Regions from separate parts of the Homo sapiens genome. Here all the other regions are linked to region 1. Evidence: fine-mapped expression QTL. A gene starts in region 1. Each other region holds a variant in brackets. All regions are shown on one strand. Distances are between the middles of the regions.

Region 1 (5,162 bases):
TTTTTTTTTTTTTTTTTGAGACGAGGTCTCACTCTGTCACCCAGGCTGCAGTGTGGTGGCACAATCTCGGCTTACTGCAACCTCCGCCCCACCCCAGGGTTCAAGTGATCCTCCTGCCTTAGCCTCATGAGTAGCTGGGACCACAGGTGCAAACCACCACACCCGACTATTTTTTTGTATTTTTGGTAGAGACAGGGTTTCACCATGTTGCCCAGGCTGGTCTCGAATTCCTGAGATCAAGCAATCTGCCCACCTCAGCCTCCCAGGGTGGTGGGACTACAGGCATGAGCCACCGTGCCTGGTCCAGAGGTAGGTATTCTTAATGCCACTTCGTACCACAGGGGAAACTGAGGCACAGGGAAGGGAAATGGCCAGGGTCACACAGCTAGTAAGAGGGGTGCAGTCAAGTTTTGAACTCATATAATCTGGCTCCAGAGTCTATGCCAGGTATGTATAAAATTTGGCTTCCTGGGGCCACATTGAAGAATTGTCTTAGGCCACACATAACATACACTATTGATAGCTGATGAACTTAAAAAAAAATCGCAAAAAATTCGCATGTTTTGGTAAGGTTTACAAATTTGTGTTAGGCTGCATTCAAAGCTGTTCTAGGCCGCATGCAGGCCCACGGGTGGGACAAGCTCAGTCTATGCTCTTAGCTGCTACTCTGTATACTGCCTCAGTGATAACACAGCCCCTATAGGCCCAAGAAAATATAGGGCAAGTGCTCAAAAACTGGCAGAGTGGACAGTAAGTGCTCTAAGGGAAGGTGGTCAGATCCCAAGAAGGACTTCCTGCCCGCAACAGGTAAGGAAGGAGAAAGAAGCTTGTGTGTACCGCTCAGTATCAGGATTCCTCCACCTTCTCTGGACCTTGATTCAGTCTCCTAACTGCCACAGAAGGGATGAAGGTTGAACTCCAGCTGGGATGTCCTGATGTGGATGGGACAAGGTGGGTTTCTGCAACAGAGAAAAGACGGACATCCACCTCGGCTGGTGGAGGAGGGCCCAGTGCATGAGAAGGGGCAAGATGGCTACCCTGTGACTAAACGAAAACGGAGATCTTCCATTTTTGGCAGGGTTGGGAGATAGTTCCTATCCAGTGGAAGCTGAAGGACGGTTTGAAAGGAAGCCAAGGGCAAGGGATGGAGAAAAGGACGCAGCTGGGGCCTCGATGTCTGAATCCCTGCCAGGGGATGGGGCCTGGGCACCCATCATTTGGAATGGAAGATGAGGATAGCTGGAAACAGACACTTTAGAGGGATGAGGGAGACAGAAGAATGACAGCAGGTGTTGGACAGTCCAACGTCTGCGGCTCTTACAAGTGGTAAGGAAGAAATGAGACTGGGCCCCAGAGTTCCTATTAATAAAATATGCTGAGGCCGGGAGCGATGGCTCACGCCTGTAATCCCAGCACTTTGGGAGGCCGAGGCGGGCGGATCACGAGGCCAGGAAATTGAGACCATCCTGGCTAACACAGTGAAACCCCGTCTCTACTAAAAATACAAAAAATTAGCCGGGCGTGGTGGCGGGCGCCTGTAGTCCCAGCTACTCGGGAGGCTGAGGCAGGAGAATGGCGTGAACCTGGGAGGCGGAGTTTGCAGTGAGCCGAGATCGCGCCACTGCACTCCAGCCTGGGCGACAGAGACGGAGAGACTCCGTCTCAAAAAAAAAAAACAGTTGAACAGGAATGTATGAGTTGAGCTCTGTGCATAAGGCTTGCCAGACATCGTCTTATTTGAGTCTCATAAACCCACCAGGCGAGTTGATTTTTCTTATTTTACAGATAGGGAAATGAAGTAAGAGAACTTAAGTTATTTGCCCGAGGCCATCCTGGCAGGTCTGTATTTGGGAGAGTGCTGTGACTCATGCTGGACTCTAACCCACGAGGGTTTCTCAGAGTCAGCAGCTGGGGGATGAAGAAGTGAAAAGTGACTGGCAGGAAATTCTGCAAGCAAGGAAAGGGAAAGAGAAATGAACTGGTGCAGGTCTGCGGGAAGAGAATGAGGCTGGATCCTCAAAATCACAGGAGGAAGCAGGCCCAGACCTCAGAGGCAGAAAGAGAAAGAAACCAGAGCTTAGAGTCAGGAGGAGGAAACCAGACCCCGGAGCCACAAGGAGAGGGCTGGATCCCCGGCTCAGAGGGAAGAGGTCGGATCCCCAGCTGAGAGGGAGGAGGGTCCCGGACCCTAGGAGTGGGAAGGAAAGGCTCGGATCCCCTGATCCCCAGGAGGAGGGGACCCGGCTGCCTCCCGGTTGGGGCCGCGCGAGGGCGGGGCGCGGAAGGATCCGGGAGGGCCGTGCTCCGCCACCCAGTATATATCTGTCCCCAGTCCCCGGGGCCGCCTCATTCCCTGTCCTCGGATCACAGTCTCTTCTCACTACAGTGTCGCCGCCTCTGCCTGCGTAGCCCCGGCCATGGCTCTGTAGCCTCGACCCCTTTGTGCCCCCGGCCCGTCTCCGCGCTCACCACGCCTGCGCTCTCCGCTCCCACCTTCTTTCTTCAGCCGAGGCCGCCGCCGCCTCTCCTTGCTGCAGCCATGGAGTGAGTAACCGCTTACCTCTTCTCCAACTGCCTTTCCCGCCCTTTCGCAGCTCGTGGCCCTCTTTAGGGAGCCCTGGGGGGTGGGGAGTCGCGAGCGGGGAATCACGGTCGCGCAGGCGCAGAAGTAGTACGGTGGGCCGAAGGCGCGCGGCTGCGCATGCGCACTGGGCCCGGGGCCGGGTGGGAGAGTTCTAGACTCGATGTTTGTCAGCCCGCGTGCAGCTGGGCCTGAGCACTCCAGGGGAGGGTGTGTTTTTTTTTTTTCTAAACGATTCTTCGTGCTTGGTTGTTCCTGCGCAGTAGCCCACCAGTGCCCCGTAGTGAAAGAGCTGCGGACCCTGAATGGCCGCACATGCGCATTGATCCCCAAGAGGGCGGAGGTGTAAAGGCAATTGGACCGCTCGGGCGACGTAGCATGCGCCTTGGCCCTCGGCGCAGAGCCGCGTGTGGACGGGTGGCGTTCGGGTAGCCGTTCTCCGCGTGCCCCCTCTACCCTCCTCCACCCTCCCTGCCCCACGTTGCTCTGGCTCACAGCCCAGCTTCCTTCCTTTTAAACCAGGCACCTGCTGAGGCGGGGACTGGCTTAGATTGACAGGGCAGAAGGCGGGACCCAGAGGCAACCCTCTAAGTGGGTGGGGATAGAACCACTGTCGTCACGATGGGTGGGATTTCGGAAGCACATTGTGAGAAGGGGCGGGGCTAAACCAACCGTTAGTTGAGGGGTGGGGTTTCGATGTGACAAAGAGGCGGGGCCTCTGGGGAATCGGGGGAGGGGCGGAGCTAAATAAACAATGAGGGGCGGGGCTTGGAGGGGCAGCGGCAGAGCGAGGAGTGGGATTTGAGTGGATAACATTGCTGAAGGGCTGCGGCCTGGGGCAGTTCCCCTGGGAACTGGTTTGGGATGGAAGCTAGGAAGGCAGTGGGGCCAAAAGGAAATATTTTAGAGGAAGGGGCGTGGCTGGAAGAAAATGTCCCTGGGATTGAGTTTTTCCTTGAGGCGAAATATTCTGAGGTGGATGGGAGGGGCCTAAGGTAATTCCCCTGGGAGACCTTTAGGTTTTTTTTTTCTGTATTGGGGGAAGGGGTGGGGCATCGGTCCTACTTTAGGACCTAAAGAAATTCCCTTGGGAGTGGGTGGGGCTCAGAGATTTGGGTAAAGAAAGGGCAAATTTAGAATTCGGAGAGGCTGAGGCTTAGTGTTCTAAACGGTGGTTGGAAGGGGGAGGGAGGAGCCTCATGGACGTGCCTGGGGGTGTGGCTTGGCTTCCCCTTGATTTTGGCCGGTGGATGACGCTGTCCTGACCACACCCACTCTTGTCTCACGCGTGTAGGTCTTCCACTTTCGCCTTGGTGCCTGTCTTCGCCCACCTGAGCATCCTCCAGAGCCTCGTGCCAGCTGCTGGTGCAGCCTCTCCTGTTGCCATCAGTGCCCAGCACCTGTGCTACAGCCATGTCACTCCTGGCGACCCTGGGGCTGGAGCTGGACAGGGCCCTGCTCCCAGCTAGTGGGCTGGGATGGCTCGTAGACTATGGGAAACTCCCCCCGGCCCCTGCCCCCCTGGCTCCCTATGAGGTCCTTGGGGGAGCCCTGGAGGGCGGGCTTCCAGTGGGGGGAGAGCCCCTGGCAGGTAAGGGCAGGTGGAAGGTGGAGCTGGGGAGTGGAGGGCAGGGGAAGATGGGGGAGGAAGAACTCATCCATGTATTCAATAAATATTGAGTGCCTACAATGTGCCAGGCACTGTTTTAGGTGCTGAGGATACGGCTGGGAACAAGAAGAACATGGTCTGTGCCTTCCAGCAGCTCACACTGTGGGGAGTAGACCAGAGATAAATTAAATGAGAGTGTATTGGAATAAGTCAAAAACACCTAGCAGCTGAGCTACAAAATGACAAAGGGGACCTAATATAGAATGGGTAGCCAGAAAACCTTCTCCAAGTAGGTAACATGTTGACTGAGGCATAAATGATGGGAAGGAAGCCAGGCATGATGGCCTGTAATCCCAGCACTTTGGGAGGCCAAGCGGGGAGAATTGCTTTAGTCCAGGAGTTCAGGACGTGGGCAACATAGCGAGACCTCATATCTATAGGAAAAAAAAAATTAGCCAGGCATGGTGGCTCACGCTTGTAGTCACAGCTACTTGGGAGGCTGAGGTGGGAGGATCGCTTGAGCCTGGGAGGTCTAGGCTGCAGTGAGCCAAGATGATGCCACTGCACTGCAGCCTGGGCAACAGAGTGAAACCCTATCCCTTAAAATAAAAAAAAAGTAGGGAAGGAATGAGGAAAACACCCAAGGGAAGAGCATTTTAGTTGGAGGGAACTGTATATGCAGAAGCCCTCAGGAGGCAGGAATCATTTCATTCATTACTGTATCCCAAATGCTTGGCACATAGTGGGTTTTCAATAATTAATGAGTAAAGATGAAACAAGGCATATGTGCGTGTGTATCTGTGTGTGTAATGTGATCTAGTTTGCCTTTTAAAAAGAGAGAATAGAGACACCACAGATACAGAGTACTCGGTAAAGGAGATGTTGGAATGGTTGAAGAAATGCTTGGTTGACTGTTGCTTGAGTCATTGGTTGGTTGGCTGGTTCTTTTTTTCTTTTTTAATTTTTTTTTTC
Region 2 (5,126 bases), 25 kb before region 1:
GAGTCTCGTTCTGTCACCCAGGCCGGAGTGCAGTGGCACAATCTCAGCTCACTGCAACCTCCACCTCCTGGGTTCAAGTGGTTCTCCTGCCTCAGCCTCCCGAGGAGCTGCGATTACAGGTACAGGCCACCATGCCCAGCTAATTTTCGTATTTTTAGTAGAGACAGGGTTTCACCATGTTGGCTGGGCTGGTCTCGAACTCCTGACTTCGGGTGATCCCTCCCATCTTGGCCTCCCAAAGTGCTGGGATTACAAGGCTGAGCCACTGCACCTGACCATGTTTTGCTTTTTAAAAACTACAATATCATTATCATATTTTAAGATGGCAGCCATTTCTTTTTTTTTTTTTTTTTTGAGATGGAGTCTCGCTCAGTTGCCCAGGCTGGAGTGCAGTGGCACGATCTCGGCTCACTGCAAGCTCCGGATGGCAGCCATTTCTTAATATCATTAAATCAATGTTCACGTTTCCTGGAATAGCTCATCACTGAAAAACAAAACAAAACAAAACAAAAAAACAGTTTAGGCCGGGCATGGTGGCTGACACCTGCAATCACAGTACTTTGGGAGGCCGAGGTGAGCGGATCACCTGAGGTCAGGAGCTCAAGACCAGCCTGGGCAACATGGTGAAACCCCATCTCTACTAAAAATACAAAAATTAGCCAGGCGTGGTGGCGGGCACCTCTGTAATCCCAGCTACTCAGGAGGCTGAGGCAGGAGAATCACTTGAACCTGGGAGGCAGAGGTCGCTATGAGTTGAGATCATGCCACTCCAGCCTAGGCGACAGAGCGGGACTGCATCTCAAAAAAAAAAGGCCAGGTGTGGTGGCTCATGCCTGTAATCCCAGCACTCTGGGAGGCCGAGACAGGTGGATCACAAGGTCAGGAGATCAAGACCATCCTGGCCAACATGGTAAAACCCTGTCTCTACTAAAAATACGAAAATTAGCTGGGTGTGGTAGTGCACGCCTGTAGTCCCAGCTACTCAGGAGGCTGAGGCAGGAGAATCGCTTGAACCCGGGAGGCAGAGATTGCAGTGAGCCGAGATCACACCACTGCACGCCAGCCTGAGCAACAGAGCAGGACTCTCTGAAAAAAAAAACAACAACAAAACAAAAAACGGTTGGTTTGTCAAGATGCAAATCACAGTCCATATTGCATTTGAGTGACATTGTCTTGGTCAGTAAGTGTCACTATCAGTTCTGTGGATTCAAGGGAACTAGGGTATCTGAGGTGACCCCAGGGCACCAGGCTAGTCCCCATCACGGCAGCGCACCCGGTCTGCTTCTTGCCTCGGGAAACCTTTGGCGTCTGAGAGGGTTCAACCTGATGGTGTCTGGAGGGGAGACGGGACAAGGGCGCCCATGTGGGTCACTGTGTTTGAAGTCACCAGGGCCCTGGTGTGCAGAAGCCAAGGGTGTGGTCCTGTGGGACAGGCAGGGGAACAGCCGGGGTCACTGAAACCTGGCTGGGGGGCTGGCTGCTGTGCAAGAAGCAGACCTCGCTTCCGAGCGTGAGGGCTTTGCTCCCTGGGAGGTTCTGTGGAGAGCCGCTGCCCTGAGTCTGAGGGGCAGATTTTTAAAGCACCCTGACATTTTTGGGGTTTACTGAAAACTTGGGAGCAGTGGTGTGCTGAAGCTGAGTCATACCAGGTCATAAGAGCTGATTTACATTTTCAGGAGTTTTTGCTTTGCAAGCCACTCATTACTAAAAAATAAATTGTATTGATGATTAGTTTTTACTAAAAAAGAATAAAAAGTCATCATTCCCTCATGGTTTGACTACATATTATACTGTTATATGTGCTGGGTTTTTTTTTTTTTTTTTTTTTTTTTTGAGACAGGGTCTCACTTTTGTTACCCAGGCTGGAGTGCAGTGGTACGATCTCGGCTCACTGCAATGTCTGCCTCCCAGGTTCATGTGATCCTCCCACCTCAGCCTCCAAGTATCTGAAACTACAGGCAGGAGCCACTACGCCAGGCTAATTTTTGTATTTTTGTAGAGACGAGGTTTCGCCATGTTGCCCAGGCTGGTCTCAAACTCCAGACCCCAAGTAATCTACTCCCCTTGGCCTCCCCAAAATGTCGGGATTACAGGCATGAGCCACCACACCCAGCCCCCATTTGCCACTCTTATCCCTAAACAGGGGAAAGCAAAGCAGTAAGAGCTGAGATTCACCTTTAAAAGCCTCTGATTCCAAATTTAGTCACCAAATGTGTTGTCTTCATATGAATTAATGAGGAACTTAAGGAAAGGCCATTTGTCAGGACTGGGAAGGAAGCACATCTGTGTATTTTCTTCCTGGAAAGGGAAACTGAAATTACGATGGAGCCATCACCCGCGGTGGCACCCAGTCGGTTGCTGATGCTGCTGCGATCTCGGGATCCCTCCTAGACTCCCCCAGGAGGCCTGTTGGGACCATTTCTCACATGGCTTTGGGGCACAGAGCCT[C/T]CTGATTTAATGGAATCACTTGTGTTATTCAGAGTGGGGTGCTCAAGATCCTTTGGGGTATGGGAAGAAAATGCAGAACTTAAAATTTTTTTTTTGAGATGAAGTCTAACTTTGTTGCCCAGGCTGGAGTGCAGTGGCGCGATCTTGGCTCACTGCAACCTCCGCCTCCCAGGTTCAAGTGATTCTCCTGAGTACCTGGGAGTTACAGGCACCCACCACCACGCCGGGCTAATTTTTGTATTATTTATTTACTTATTTGAGACGGAGTCACTCTTTTGCCCAGGCTGGAGTGCAGTGGCTTGATCTCTGCTCACTGTAAGCTCCGCCTCCCGGGTTCATGCCATTCTCCTGCCTCAGTCTCCCGAGTAGCTGGGACTATAGGCGCCTGCCACCACACCCGGCTAATTTTTTTATATTTTTAGTAGAGACAGGGTTTCACCGTGTTAGCCAGGATGGTCTCGATCTCCTAACCTCGTGATCCGCCCACCTTGGCCTCCCAAAGGGCTGGGATTACAGGCATGAGCCACCGTGCCCAGCCCCTAATTTTTGTATTTTTAGAAGATACGGGGTTTCACCATGTTGGCCAGGCTGGTCTCAAACTCCTGACCTCAGGTGATCCACCCGCCTCGGCCTCCCAAAGCTGGAATTTATTTTAAAAATATAACTATAAGAAAGCAATTAAGCTTTGCTAATGGTTAATATACAAAATAGGAAATAATATGCAAAATAATAGGAAAAATATACATGTACACTTTGGAAATACATGCTCAAATTTTCTCATCATGATTGTGTGGCCCCTGCCAACGACCTTGTGGGCATTTTTTGGTACCTCCAGCACCAGATCAGGATCAGCTCTAAAAATGGATGCTGAACGCACAAATGTAGGTAAAATGCAAACTGCTTCCTACCTCCTAAGGGGACTCAAGGCCTCCCTTCCGGCAGAGGGGACAATATGAGTCAAGGCCTATGAACTGCAGGAAAAGGTCCCTGCTGTAGGTGACAGCTTTCAGAGAGAAGTAGCTGGGTTGTGGGGTCTTCCTCTGGTTTACTGCTCCCACCACACACACCCATGGTTTCTACTTAGACACAACTCTTGTCCTCCAGAGCCCAAGATGGTGCAAGGAAATTTTATTTATTTATTTGAGACGAAGTTTCGCTTTTGTTGCCTAGGCTGGAGTGCAATGGCATGATCTCGGCTCACTGCAACCTCCACCTCTCGGGTTCAAGCGATTCTCCTGCCACAGCCTCCCGAGTAGCTGGGATTACAGGCGCCCGCCACTTAACTAGCCACCAGCTCATGTTTGTATTTTTGGTAGAGATGGGATTTCTCCATGTTGGCCATGCTGGTCTCGAACTCCTGACCTCAGGTGTTCTGCCAGCCTTGGCCTCCCAAAGTGCTGGGATTACAGGTGTGAGCCACCGCACCTGGCCGGTCCAAGGAAATAATGACTCATGATCATGACTTCGGGAGACTTTTGGAACCTGGGCCATGAATCTCCCAAGTGTTGCCCACAGACTGAGATGGAACAGGCAGCAGGAGGCCAAAGGGGTACACTCCACTCCCCACAGCCCAGGAGATCTGAGTGCTTAGGACCATTCCAGTCCATAGAGCGAGGCTGGAGGGTGGAGGAAGAGCATTGGGCCCGTGTCTTTAGCCCCAGGTGACAGGAAGGAATGCTGCCCATGACATCTGTAACCACTGGAATAGCGCCTTAGGGATGGTACTAGATGACTTAACATGTGTGTATATTTTTTGAGACAGAGTCTTGCTCTGTCGCCCAGGCTGGAGTGCAGTGGTGTGATCATGGCTCACTGCAGCCTCAAAGGCCTGGGCTTAAATGATCCTTCCATCTCAGCCTCCCAGGTAGCTGGGACCACAGTTGCGTGCCACCACGCACAACCAAACTTTTTTGTAGTTTTTATAGAGACGGGGTTTCACCATGTTGCCCAGGCTGGTCTTGAATCCCTGACCTCAAGTGATCTGCCCATCTTGGCCTCCCAAAGTGCTGGGATTACAGGTGTGAGCCACCTCGCCCAGCCATATTTGTGTATATTCTACGACATAACTGTCACAAAACACCTGGAGCCCACTCCCCGTGGCGGCTTCACTCGTGTGTTCCTCTTCTACCACTAGCACCACCCCTTCCTGGAGCAAACCACGATTTGCATTTGTCTATTACTCTGTCTCATCAAACAAAAGCTGCTTCATCGCATACCCCTATGTCTATGCAAGCACTACTTCATTTGCTTGCCTGTGCGTTTCATGTGAATGGCACCCCTGCAGAGTCTCCTGGAACCTGCTCTTTTTACTCAGCTTTCTCCTCCTAACATTTATCCATATTAACAGCAGCTGTTTTGGTTTCACAATACATTTATTTAGAAAAGCAACATACAGTAATAGGTATTTCAGAGAATTCAGCAAAGTATAAAGACAAATACAAAAGATGCTTGGGATACAACCGCTAGCTTCTGCCTTCCACACACAGTGGATTTTACTGTAACTGACTAGAGTTACTCTGGTGCCACTAAGTTCCGAGCCAAGTCTACGGCCACCACTGGAAGCTGTGGCTATTTCTGTGGACTGACGTTACACTGGGCTTCATTGTTCTTTCATTTAACAAATGTGACAGGGACCGGGCTGGGGACACACGGGGAACGACAGTGGGTCTCTGCCCATG
Region 3 (5,162 bases), 230 kb before region 1:
GGGTCTCTACCCCCGACTCTCTCTGGGTCTCTGCCCCCCTCTCTCTCTGGGTCTCTGTCCCCCTCTCTCTGGGTCTCTGTCCCCTGTCTCTGGGTCTCTGTTCCTTTCTCTCTTGGGGTCTCCGATGCTCTTAAGTCTCTGTGTCCTTCTCTTTGGGTTTCTGTCCCACTGTCGACCCCTGCCCCGTCAACTCCCTGGCTCCGGTGAGGGGTTAATGACCCGGTAACTCCTCCTCCCCAGGCCCTGGTCCGCATCTTCTCTGGCCGCCACCCGATGCTGTTCAGTTACCAGCGCTCCCTGCCACGCCAGCCCGTGCCCTCTGTGCAGGACACCGTGCGCAAGGTGGGCCTGGGAGCGCGCAGACGGGCTGGGGCGGCCGGGGCGGGCCGGGGGCGTGACCTGCCCTCTTCTCCCCTTTAGTACCTGGAGTCGGTCCGGCCCATCCTCTCCGACGAGGACTTCGACTGGACCGCGGTCCTGGCGCAGGAATTCCTGAGGCTGCAGGCGTCGCTGCTGCAGTGGTACCTGCGGCTCAAGTCCTGGTGGGCGTCCAATTATGTGAGTCCCGCCACCGCCACCAACGCCCCACCTGAAGGGCTAAGGTTGTGAGCTCGCCTGCTAAACTTGCGAGTTATACGCCCTGCCCCACGACACGCCCACAACCCACACGCCCCCAGCCCCCAAGGGTCAATACCCTGAGCCCCGCTCACATACATCTATATCCTAACCTCCACATTTATATATATATAAAAATATATATGTATATATATTTATTTATATATAAATATATAGTGTATATATAAATATATATATTTATTTATAAATATATATATTTATATTTATATACAAATATTAATATTTATAAATTTATATATAAATATATTTATATATAAATTTATAAATAAATATATAAATATTATAAATATATTAAATATATTTATTTATAAATTATAAATATATATTTATTTATAAATTATAAATATATATTTATTTATAAATTATAAATATATATTTATTTATAAATTATAAATATATATTTATTTATTTATAAATTATAAATAAATATATATTTATTTATAAATTATAAATAAATATATATTTATTTATATATAGGCTTATATATTTATTTATATATATATGCTCATAACATATATATGCTCTCTCTATATATTTAATGTTGAAGTTTGGGGTATAGATGCTCCAGTATTCTGAGCTTCACCCTTGATCTTCCAAAGTTTGAACCAGAATTCCAGGACTTAGCCCTGGTGCAATGTCTCACGCCTGTAATGCCAGCAGGTTGCGAGGCCAAGGCAGGCGGATCACGTGAGGTCAAGAGTTCAAGACCAGCCTGGCCAACATGGTGAAACCCCGTCTCTACTAAAAATACAAAAATTAAACAGGTCTGGTGGCGCACACGCCTATAATCCCAGCTACTCGGGAGGCTGAGGCGGGAGGATTGCTTGAACCCAGGAGGCAGAGGTGGCACTGAACTGAGATCGCGCCACTGCACTTCGGCCTGGGCCACAGAGCAAGACTCTGTCTCAAAAAAAAAAAAAGAAAAGAAAAAAAAAAAGACAAAACCAAAGGAGTTGAATGGTGAGGAGTGGTGGGAGAGGCCTGAACTCCAGACTGAGGATCCTGGACTCTTTCCTGGGGGTACTAGGGAGCCATGGGAGGGTTTGGAGCAGGGAAGGGGCAGGGTCAGCTTTGGTGTGGGGGAAAGACTGGAGGGCGGGAGGCTGCAGAGGAAGCTACCGTGAGACCTACCATTGTAGGTCATTGAGACACTGGGCTGGGATGAGAAAAGCTGCAGCAAGAGTGAGAGGGGAAGGGAAGAGGGTCCCCGGCAGAGCCCCACGAGGCAGCTATGTGGAAGCCTCAGTTGGTCAAACCCAGCGAAGGGGACGAAATATCTGGAGAAGTAAAAGGGAATGCAGGCCTTGCTTTTCTGGTTAAATATTTTTTTCTTCACACTTTTGGACAAGATTCTGTTTACACACACACACACACACACACACACACACTCATTTCTTTCTTCCCTTCCTTCCCTCCCTCCCTCCCTCCTTTCCTACCTTCTTTCCTGCCTGCCTGCCTGCCTTCTCTCTCTCTTTCCTTCCTTTTTTTCTGTCTCCTTCCTTCCTTTTTTTCTTTGAGATGGAGTCTCACTCTGTCGCCCAGGCTGTAGTGCACTGGCACCGTCTCAGCTCACTGCAAGCTCTACCTCCCAGGTTCACGCCATTCTCCTGCCTCAGCCTCCCATACCTGGCTAATTTCTTTTTTTTTTTTTTTGTATTTTTGTATTTTTAGTAGAGATGGGGTTTCACCGTGTTAGCCAGGATGGTCTCGACCTCCTGACCTCGTGATCCGCCTGCCTCGGCCTCCCAAAGTGTTGGGATTTACAGGCGTGAGCCACC[A/G]TGCCCGGCCTCTTTCTTTCTTTCTTTCTCTATCTTTCTCTCTCTCCCCCTCCCTCCCTTTCTGTCTCTCTCTCCTCCCTCCCTCCCTCCCTCCCTCCCTCCCTCCCTTCCTTCCTTCCTTCCTTCCTTCTCTCTTTCTCTCTCTTTCCTTTTTCTTTCTTGGAAGGGGTCTCACTCTGTCACCCAGGCTGTAGTGCAGTGGCGTGATCAAAGCTCACTGCAGCCTTGACCTCCCAGACTCAAGCCATCCTCCCATCTCAGCCTCCTGAGTAGCTGGGACTACAGGCATGTGCCCCTAAGCCTGGCTAATTTTTAAATTTTTTGTAGACATGGGGTCTTGCTATGTTGCACAGACTGGTCTCAAACTCCGAGGCTCAAGCTATCCTCCCACCTCAGCCTCCCAAAATGCTGAGATAAGAGGTGTGAGCCACTGCGCCCAGCCTGTATATTTTATTGTACCTCCAAGCCAACTGCCAGTGACACACGCACCATTTTTTTATGTACAACAACAACAACAAAAAACCCTACAAGAGCAGCTAAACCGTGACACAGTGCTTTCTTTTGTGTTTTTCATTGTTTGAATTTTATCATGGTATTGGCAAGGCCACAATTTTCATGTATTTACACATATGTATATTATTTCACATATTTATTGTTTTATAAATTTTACATTTATGTTCTGTTTTTCTTTTTTGGGGGGGACGGAGTTTCACTCTTGTTGCCCAGGCTGGAGTGCAATGGTGCGATCTCAGCTCCTTGCAACCTCTGCCTCCCCGACTCAAGCGATTCTCCTGCCTCAGGCTACCGAGTAGCCGGGATTACAGGCGTGCACCACCACGTGTGGCTAATGTTTGTATTTTTAGTAGAGACAGGGTTTCATCATGTTGGCCAGGCTGGTCTTGAACACCTGACCTCAGGTGATCCACCCGCTTAGCCTCCCAAAGTGCTGGGATTACAGGCGGGAGCCACCGTGCCCAGCTGTACCTTGTTATTTCCACCAGCTATGTAATATTCCACTGCCGGAGTATAACAGGGTTTAGCTAACTGATCCCCCATGGATGGATTTCTAGGTGATCGCTAGTTACTGACTACGATGGCTGACTTCTTTGGCTCTATCCTCCCTGCCTGACGCAGGAGCATCTGGGGCCTTCCCTGTCCTACTGTCCCTCCCCCAACAGGCCCCAGCCCCTCACTGTGTGTCTCCCCACCCCGCTCCCAGGTCAGTGACTGGTGGGAGGAATTTGTGTACCTGCGCTCCCGAAATCCGCTGATGGTGAACAGCAACTATTACATGATGGTGAGAAGGGGAGGGGTGAGGTTCATAGGCCCCAGGTCTAGGGTTGGGGGGTACCTGGGCGGAATGTGACGGTCATGCTCAGTGACCTGGATCTAGACGCGCCATCTGGGATTCATCATTCCACCCTCTTTTGGGGTCAGGACCTGTATTTGGGTCAGTGGCTCCATCGGGGGCAAACCTGACCCTGGGTGTTTTGCCATCCCCTCTCCTGGTCCCCAGGACTTCCTGTATGTCACACCCACGCCTCTGCAGGCAGCTCGCGCTGGGAATGCCGTCCATGCCCTCCTCCTGTACCGCCACCGCCTGAACCGCCAGGAGATACCCCCGGTGAGAGGGCCCCAGTGGGTTAGGGATGGAGGTGTGGTCCTGTGGCCTTTGGGCCACGTGGGTCCTGGAAGGCAGCTCACAGCCCACGGTTTCCTGCAGACTTTGCTGATGGGAATGCGCCCCTTATGCTCTGCCCAGTACGAGAAGATCTTCAACACCACGCGGATTCCAGGGGTCCAAAAAGGTGAGACCCTCTCCTGTCCCCACTGATGGAGGCAGAACAATATAGTGGCTAAGAGCATGTTTTCTGGAGTCCGCCTGACTGAGCTGGGAACCATTGCTTCCTTGCTGTGTGACCTTCTGCACGTTATTACCCTCTCTGAGCCTCAGCTTCCACTAAAGTGGGATAATAATTGTACCTAGGGGCTGGGCGCAGTGACTGATGCCTGTAATCCCAGCACTTTGTGGGGCCGAGGTGGACAATTGCTTAGGCCAGGAGTTCGAGACCAGCCTAGGGCAACGTAGTGAGATCCGGTCTATATACAAAATTTAAAAATTAGCCAGGCATGGTGATATGCACCTGTGGCCCCAGTTAATCGGGAGCCTGAAGTGGAAGGATCACCTGAGCCCCGGAGGTTGAGGCTGCAGTGAGCTGAGATCTCACCACTGCACTCCAGCCTGGCGACAGAGCGAGACCTTGTCTCCAAATACTAAGTAAATAAAAGTCCTAGGGTGCTGATGATTACTAGGGTACTTTGAACAACTGACGACACCTAAGAAGTATATAATAAATGGTCACTATTTTTATGTGTCTGGCCTTCCTGCCCCCATGCTTCTGCCAACGCCACCCCTAGACTACATCCGCCACCTCCATGACAGCCAACACGTGGCTGTCTTCCACCGGGGCCGATTCTTCCGCATGGGGACCCACTCCCGAAACAGCCTGCTTTCCCCGAGAGCCCTGGAGCAGCAGTTTCAGAGAATCCTGGATGATCCCTCACCGGCCTGCCCCCACGAGGAACATCTGGCAGCTCTGACAGCTGCTCCCAGGTAAGGGTCAGGGGTCAGGGGTCAGGGGCTCTCAGAGGCCGCCAGTGTCCTGAGACTGTGGAAGGGCAGGGTGGGGCCAGGTGGCGGCTGGGCAGGATGGACTCAGGCACATCCCGGGCCCTCCAGGGGCACGT
Region 4 (5,117 bases), 32 kb before region 1:
GAAGGGGGACAGAGTTTGGGTTGGACGGGGGTTTGAGATGAAGAAGGGGCCTGGGGCTGGGGTGCCTGAGGGTGTGGGGATGGTGGAGCTGCAGGCCTGGAGGGGCCAGCACAGGAGCTGGCTTTTGCACCAGGCAGGGCCAGCTGGAGGTCTGGTTGGACCAGGTGGCCCGAGTGTTGCCAGAGGCCCAGGGCTGGCGCTGGAGGCAAGACTGAGGTGAGGATTAGGCGAAGGATGGGGTTGGAGGCTGGGTTTGGGAGTCAGAGTGGAAGTTCGGGCCCACTCTGGTGTGGGCATGGAGCTGGGGGGCTAGTTGAGTCTAGGCACACAGGTGGGTGGGTTGCTAGGTCACCTGTGAGAGCTGGGCATGCGCATGGCTCCCAGCTCCCCAATCCAGCCCGTGTTCTGGTCCCGGTAGGTGAAGATGCGGCCCCCGATCCTGTTATCTGCCTCCAGGATGGTGACCTGAGGGAGTCCGTGGGGCGAGGAGGGCCCTTCAGCTCCACCCACTGACCATCCCCTGCCCTCTACCACCCCGTGCCAGCCCCCTGCCTTCTTCCATCCCCACAGTGGCCCAGACCCAGACTAGGAGAGGGTCCCCTTCTGTATGGAGGTGGGGGAACAGAACTGAGTGAGCAGTTCCAGACTGCAGGAGGAAGGCTGCCAGCTAGACTGCAAAGGGACTTCCCAGCTCGGGGAGTTCGGAGATGACCCATATGCGTAGAAGCCCCTGGGCTGGCCCATTCTCATTCTCGGATTGCAGTGAGTAGGTCAGTGGTTAGACCTCAGGGCACACATCCCCTTGGTAGAGTTTCCCTCTCCACCAACAGGCGCCCCACCCCAGGACAGAGGAGCTTTGAGCCAGTGAGACTTCCCTCTGGGATGAAAAACGTGGGACAGGAAAGTCTGGGGCCTCTCAGTGGAGACATGTGACAGCAGGGGGCTTGGGCCTCACCCCCAGACTACAGGGAAAGATAGCCTCTCCCCCCACATCCCCACCTCCACCCCCTCAAGGAGGAACGCGGCCGTGTCCCTGTGCCCAGGGACTCCAGCCTGCAGCAGGAGGGACTCCAGGTAGACTGCAAGCAGTGCTTCCCACCTTGTGTCCAGCATCGCTGAGCACCTTGGCGGCCACCAGCCCGGCCACACCAGCGCCAACCACAATCACCCTCTGGGGCTTCAGGGTCCGATTGAGCCCCCAGGTCACCACCTTGAGCAGCTGCTCATAGTCAGGATCCTGCATGCATTTCTCGAAGGGGTCTTGGCTGCGTTCAGCCTTCCAGTCCTGGGAGGCCACCAGGCTGAGGAGGATGGGGACGAGGACGAGGAGGTGCAGGGCTGGGAGGAGGAGGACAGGGTCAACGGGGTTGTGGCAGGTCGGGGGAGAGGGGTTCTACTCACTTGTTCCAGAGCCCCTCCCCTGCTTACTCACCCAATGGGGCCATGACTCTCGGTGGGAGATGGTGTCTGGGGTGGAGGAGAAGGGAGGGCTGTTGTGACTGAGGCCTGTGACCACTGTAGCCTGACTCTGTCTCCCATGGGCTGCCCAGCTGCTAGAGCCGGCCCTCCCCCAGTCACTGTCCTGCTCTCTGGACCTGTGTCCCCTAACCCCATTCCTTCAGAGTCCCCTGGACCGTCCCTGCCTCCCTCCTCACCGGTCTCCACCTCTGCCACAGCTCTCTCGGGTTCCTGTCTCTTTCTCTTCTTTTCCCTCTTTCTTTCCTTTCTTTCTTTTTTTTTTAACAGTCTTTCTCTGCCATCCAGGCTGGAGTGCAGTGGTAAGATCTTGGCTCACTGCAACCTCCGCCTCCCAGGTTCAAGAATCCTCCCACTTCAGCCTCCCAAGTAACTGGGATTACAGACACCCATAACCAAACCTGGCTAATTTTTGTATTTTTAGTAGAGACGGGGTTTCGCCATGTTGGCCAGGCTGGTCTCGAACTCCTGACCTTAGGTGATCCACCCACCTCGGCCTCCCAAAGTGCTGGGATTCCAGGCATGAGCCCCCGCGCCCGGCCTCTTTTCCCTCTTCCTCATCTCCCCAGCTCCTGACTGCTTCTCAGTCCCTATTTCTGTGGGTCCTGTCTCTCTGTCCCCCCACCACTGGCCGTGTCACTACCTCCAGCTCTTGGTGACAGCAGGACAGCGCGGTCCTCTCCACTGCCCTCCACTGTCTCTGCTGTGGCCCTTTCTCTCCCCTTAAACTGGCAGAGCCCCGCCCACCCCTCCTTTTGGGAAACTGGCCGAGGGAAATGAAACTGGTTTCCTGGAGCTGCTCTGGTCCAATGCTCAGAGTCTAGTTGAGGTTGGAGAAAGGGGGTTGGAGGAAGTTAATCAGTCTATTCACTTCCTTTTGCCCCAGATAGTTCTGGGGTGGTTTGGAGGCCAGAAATAGATGCTCAGGTAACCGTGCCAACAACGGGGAATCCCCTTCGGTTTGCCCCCGTCCCTGATCACCAGGCCACTTGTTTCTATCCTCCCCTGCACTCTCTCTGCCTCCTTGATTCCCACGGGGACAGAGGGGCTACAGGTCCCTGGGCCAGGCCAACTTTCCCCTCCAAGTCCCTCTCCGTCAGGTGTCGCCATGTCCTGCAGGGCCCCCCATGGTTCCACTTCCCTCTCCACTTGCCACCCAGAGCCTCAGTCTCCCCCTCCGTTACATGGGTGTAGCAGTGGGGCTGGCAGCCGTGGTCCCGGGGTCAGGACGTGGGCTCTGAGCCCGCCCTCCCCTCTGTGGCTCTCGTCTACAGCTGTCAAATGACGTCTACAGACGTCACAGTGTTTTAGGATCAAGTGAGTGAATCCAGGTTAAGTTCTGTGGCCGGAACCTGGGGTAGTACTGGAAGCTGCTCCTTTGGAAATGCCAGCTGCTGTGGCCGCAGGGGCACTCAGGGGTTCTATGAGTGACCACCCGGCAGAGGGAAGCGCCCAGGCTTCACCCATCCCTGCTTTAAGAACCACCTCAGTGCTCAGGGCAGGGAGTGGGGCGGCACCTTGGAGTGGGTGGGGGTGGAGAAACAATAGCAGGGACTTTCCTTGGGGTGGGGGAGAGGGAGCCAGGGGCTCCGTGAGGAGGAAAACCAGAGGGAGGCAGATTCTCTGCAGCAAGGGTTGGGTGGGGGTTGGAGGGCATTAACAAGAAGGAAGATGGGAAACTCCCGCAGTAAATCAAAGAGGGATGCGGTTATGGCC[G/A]GGAGGGGCTGGGGGGTGAATGTGAGTAACAAGGCATGTGACGCAGGGGCGGGAGGCCGTGGCAAAGGGAAATGATCAAAGAGCTGGAGAGTTCAGGGACCGAAAGAGCTTGGGTCAGCAAAAATAGTGACGAGGGCCAGGGGTGGCTCACGCCTATAATCCCAGCACTTTGGGAGGTCGAGGCAGGCGGATCACCTGATGTCAGGAGTTCAAGACCAGCCTGGCCAACATGGCAAAACCTCGTCTCTACTAAAAATATAAAAATTAGCCGGGCATGGTGGCATACGCCTGTAGTCCCAACTACTCAGGAGGCTGGGACAGGAGAATTGCTTGAACCCAAGAGGTGGAGGTTGCAGTGAGCTGAGATCGTGCCACTGCACTCTAGCCTGGGTGACAGAGCCAGACTCCATCTCAAAAAATAAAAAATAAAAATAAAAAATAGTAATGAGGGCCGGGTGCGGAGGCTCACTGCTGTAATCCTAGCACTTTGGGAGGCCGAGGTGGGAGGATTGCTTGAGCCCAGGGGCTCGAGACCAGCCTGGCCAAGATGGCGAAACCCTTTCTCTAAAAAAGAAAAAAATAGTGACAAAAATGTTCCCATGGCGATCACCTGCCTTGGAGGCCGCCTGGTGCTCAGGGCTTTGCACCCATCGTAAGCCTCACAATGCCTGCATTTGAGGCCAGGCACAGTGGCTTACGCCTGTAATCCCAGCACTTTGGGAGGCTGAGGTGGGCGGATCACTTGAGGTCAGGAGTTCAAGACCAACCTGGCCAAAATGATGAAACCCTGTCTCTACCAAAAATATAAAAAATTAGCCAGGCGTGGTGGTGCACACCTGTAATCCCAACTACTCGGGACACTGAGGCAGGAGAATCGCTTGAACCCGGGAGGCAGAGGTTGCAGTGAGCCGAGATTGCACCGCTGCACTCCAGCCTGGGGGACAGAGTGAGACTCCGTCTCAAAAACAAACAAACAAACAAACAAAAAACCAACAACAATGCCTGCATTTGATAGTTGAGGAAACTGAGGCTTGGAGATGGCGAGAGGGTGGGACAGGAGGACCCTGGGGCACAGAGAGGGGAAAAGGCTTGGCCTAGGTCTCAGAGTTTCATTCACAGCGACATGTCAAGTATGAACGCGGCGGGATTGGGGCCTTATTCGCCTGTGCCTCGACCTGGGTCCCACAGTGGGGAATGGCAGTGCTGGCATTCCTCACCAGGTCGGGTGGGCCCCAGGTCCCCGGCCCCTGCCCAATAGCTTGTTCAGTCCTACAGCCGCATAACAGTGGAAACAACCATGGAAAGGTGTGGAGGCCCACAGCCAACTGGCTCCCAGGGCATGTCCCAGGAGTTTTTGGGTCCCCAGAGTGGGTGGGGCCCTGCACCAATCCCCTTGTCCTTATCACAGAGGGTTGTTGCACAAAACTCCTCTGGCCCCAGGCATATGTGCAGCTCACCTTGGGGGACTTCTGGGTGGTTGTTGTTGTTGTTTTGAGAGATGGGGTCTTGCTGTGTCACTCAGGCTAGAGCACAGTGGCACAATCTCGGCTCACTGCAGCCTCAACCTCCCGGGCTCAAGCAATCCTCCCACCTCAGCCTCCCTAGTAGCTGGGACTACAGGAGTGCACTACCACACCTGTTTTTTGTTTTTTTTGTTTTTTTTAATTGAGACGGAGTCTCACTCTGTCACCCAGGCTGGAGTGTAGTGGCGCTATCTTGGCTCACTGCAAGCTCCACCTCCTGGGTTCACGCCATTCTCCTGCCTCAGCCTCCAGAGTAGCTGGGACTACAGGCACCTGCCACCACGTCCGGCTAATTTTTGTATTTTTAGTAGAGATGAGATTTCACCGTGTTAGCCAGGATGGTCTCAATCTCCTGACTTTGTGATCTGCCCGCCTCGGCCTCCCAAAGTCCTGGGATTACAG

The links.
Region 2: its variant is fine-mapped to the expression of ATF5 in skeletal muscle (GTEx, PIP 0.92). The same link has a PIP of 0.9 or more in esophagus muscle and sun-exposed skin.
Region 3: its variant is fine-mapped to the expression of ATF5 in tibial artery (GTEx, PIP 0.95).
Region 4: its variant is fine-mapped to the expression of ATF5 in whole blood (TOPMed, PIP above 0.99).

Annotation. Positions count from the first base shown.
Region 1 is chr19:49,926,857-49,932,018 of GRCh38, forward strand. It overlaps ATF5 (activating transcription factor 5), which reads left to right and starts at 2,349. Exons shown (of 3, transcript NM_001193646.2): 1 at 2,349-2,544; 2 at 3,876-4,172. The coding sequence starts at 3,995. It overlaps NUP62 (nucleoporin 62), which reads right to left and starts at 2,648. Exons shown (of 3, transcript NM_016553.5): 1 at 2,470-2,648; 2 at 838-959. It also overlaps a transcript of IL4I1 not described here. RefSeq lists silencers at 2,179-2,238, 3,089-3,138.
Region 2 is chr19:49,902,024-49,907,149 of GRCh38, forward strand. NUP62 (nucleoporin 62) reads right to left here. Exons shown (of 3, transcript NM_016553.5): 3 at 4,802-5,126. It also overlaps a transcript of IL4I1 not described here. Among named protein-coding and RNA genes, the nearest start is that of IL4I1, 7.7 kb to the left of the region's middle. The variant C/T (reference allele first, on the strand shown) is at 2,449.
Region 3 is chr19:49,701,077-49,706,238 of GRCh38, forward strand. CPT1C (carnitine palmitoyltransferase 1C) reads left to right here. Exons shown (of 20, transcript NM_001199753.2): 6 at 241-342; 7 at 421-558; 8 at 3,634-3,711; 9 at 3,931-4,038; 10 at 4,138-4,222; 11 at 4,833-5,028; 12 at 5,155-5,162. Among named protein-coding and RNA genes, the nearest start is that of CPT1C, 13 kb to the left of the region's middle. The variant A/G (reference allele first, on the strand shown) is at 2,415.
Region 4 is chr19:49,894,716-49,899,832 of GRCh38, forward strand. It overlaps IL4I1 (interleukin 4 induced 1), which reads right to left and starts at 2,172. Exons shown (of 8, transcript NM_152899.2): 1 at 2,120-2,172; 2 at 1,433-1,467; 3 at 1,100-1,338; 4 at 353-465. The coding sequence starts at 1,445. RefSeq lists enhancers at 658-707, 3,102-3,281. The variant G/A (reference allele first, on the strand shown) is at 3,193.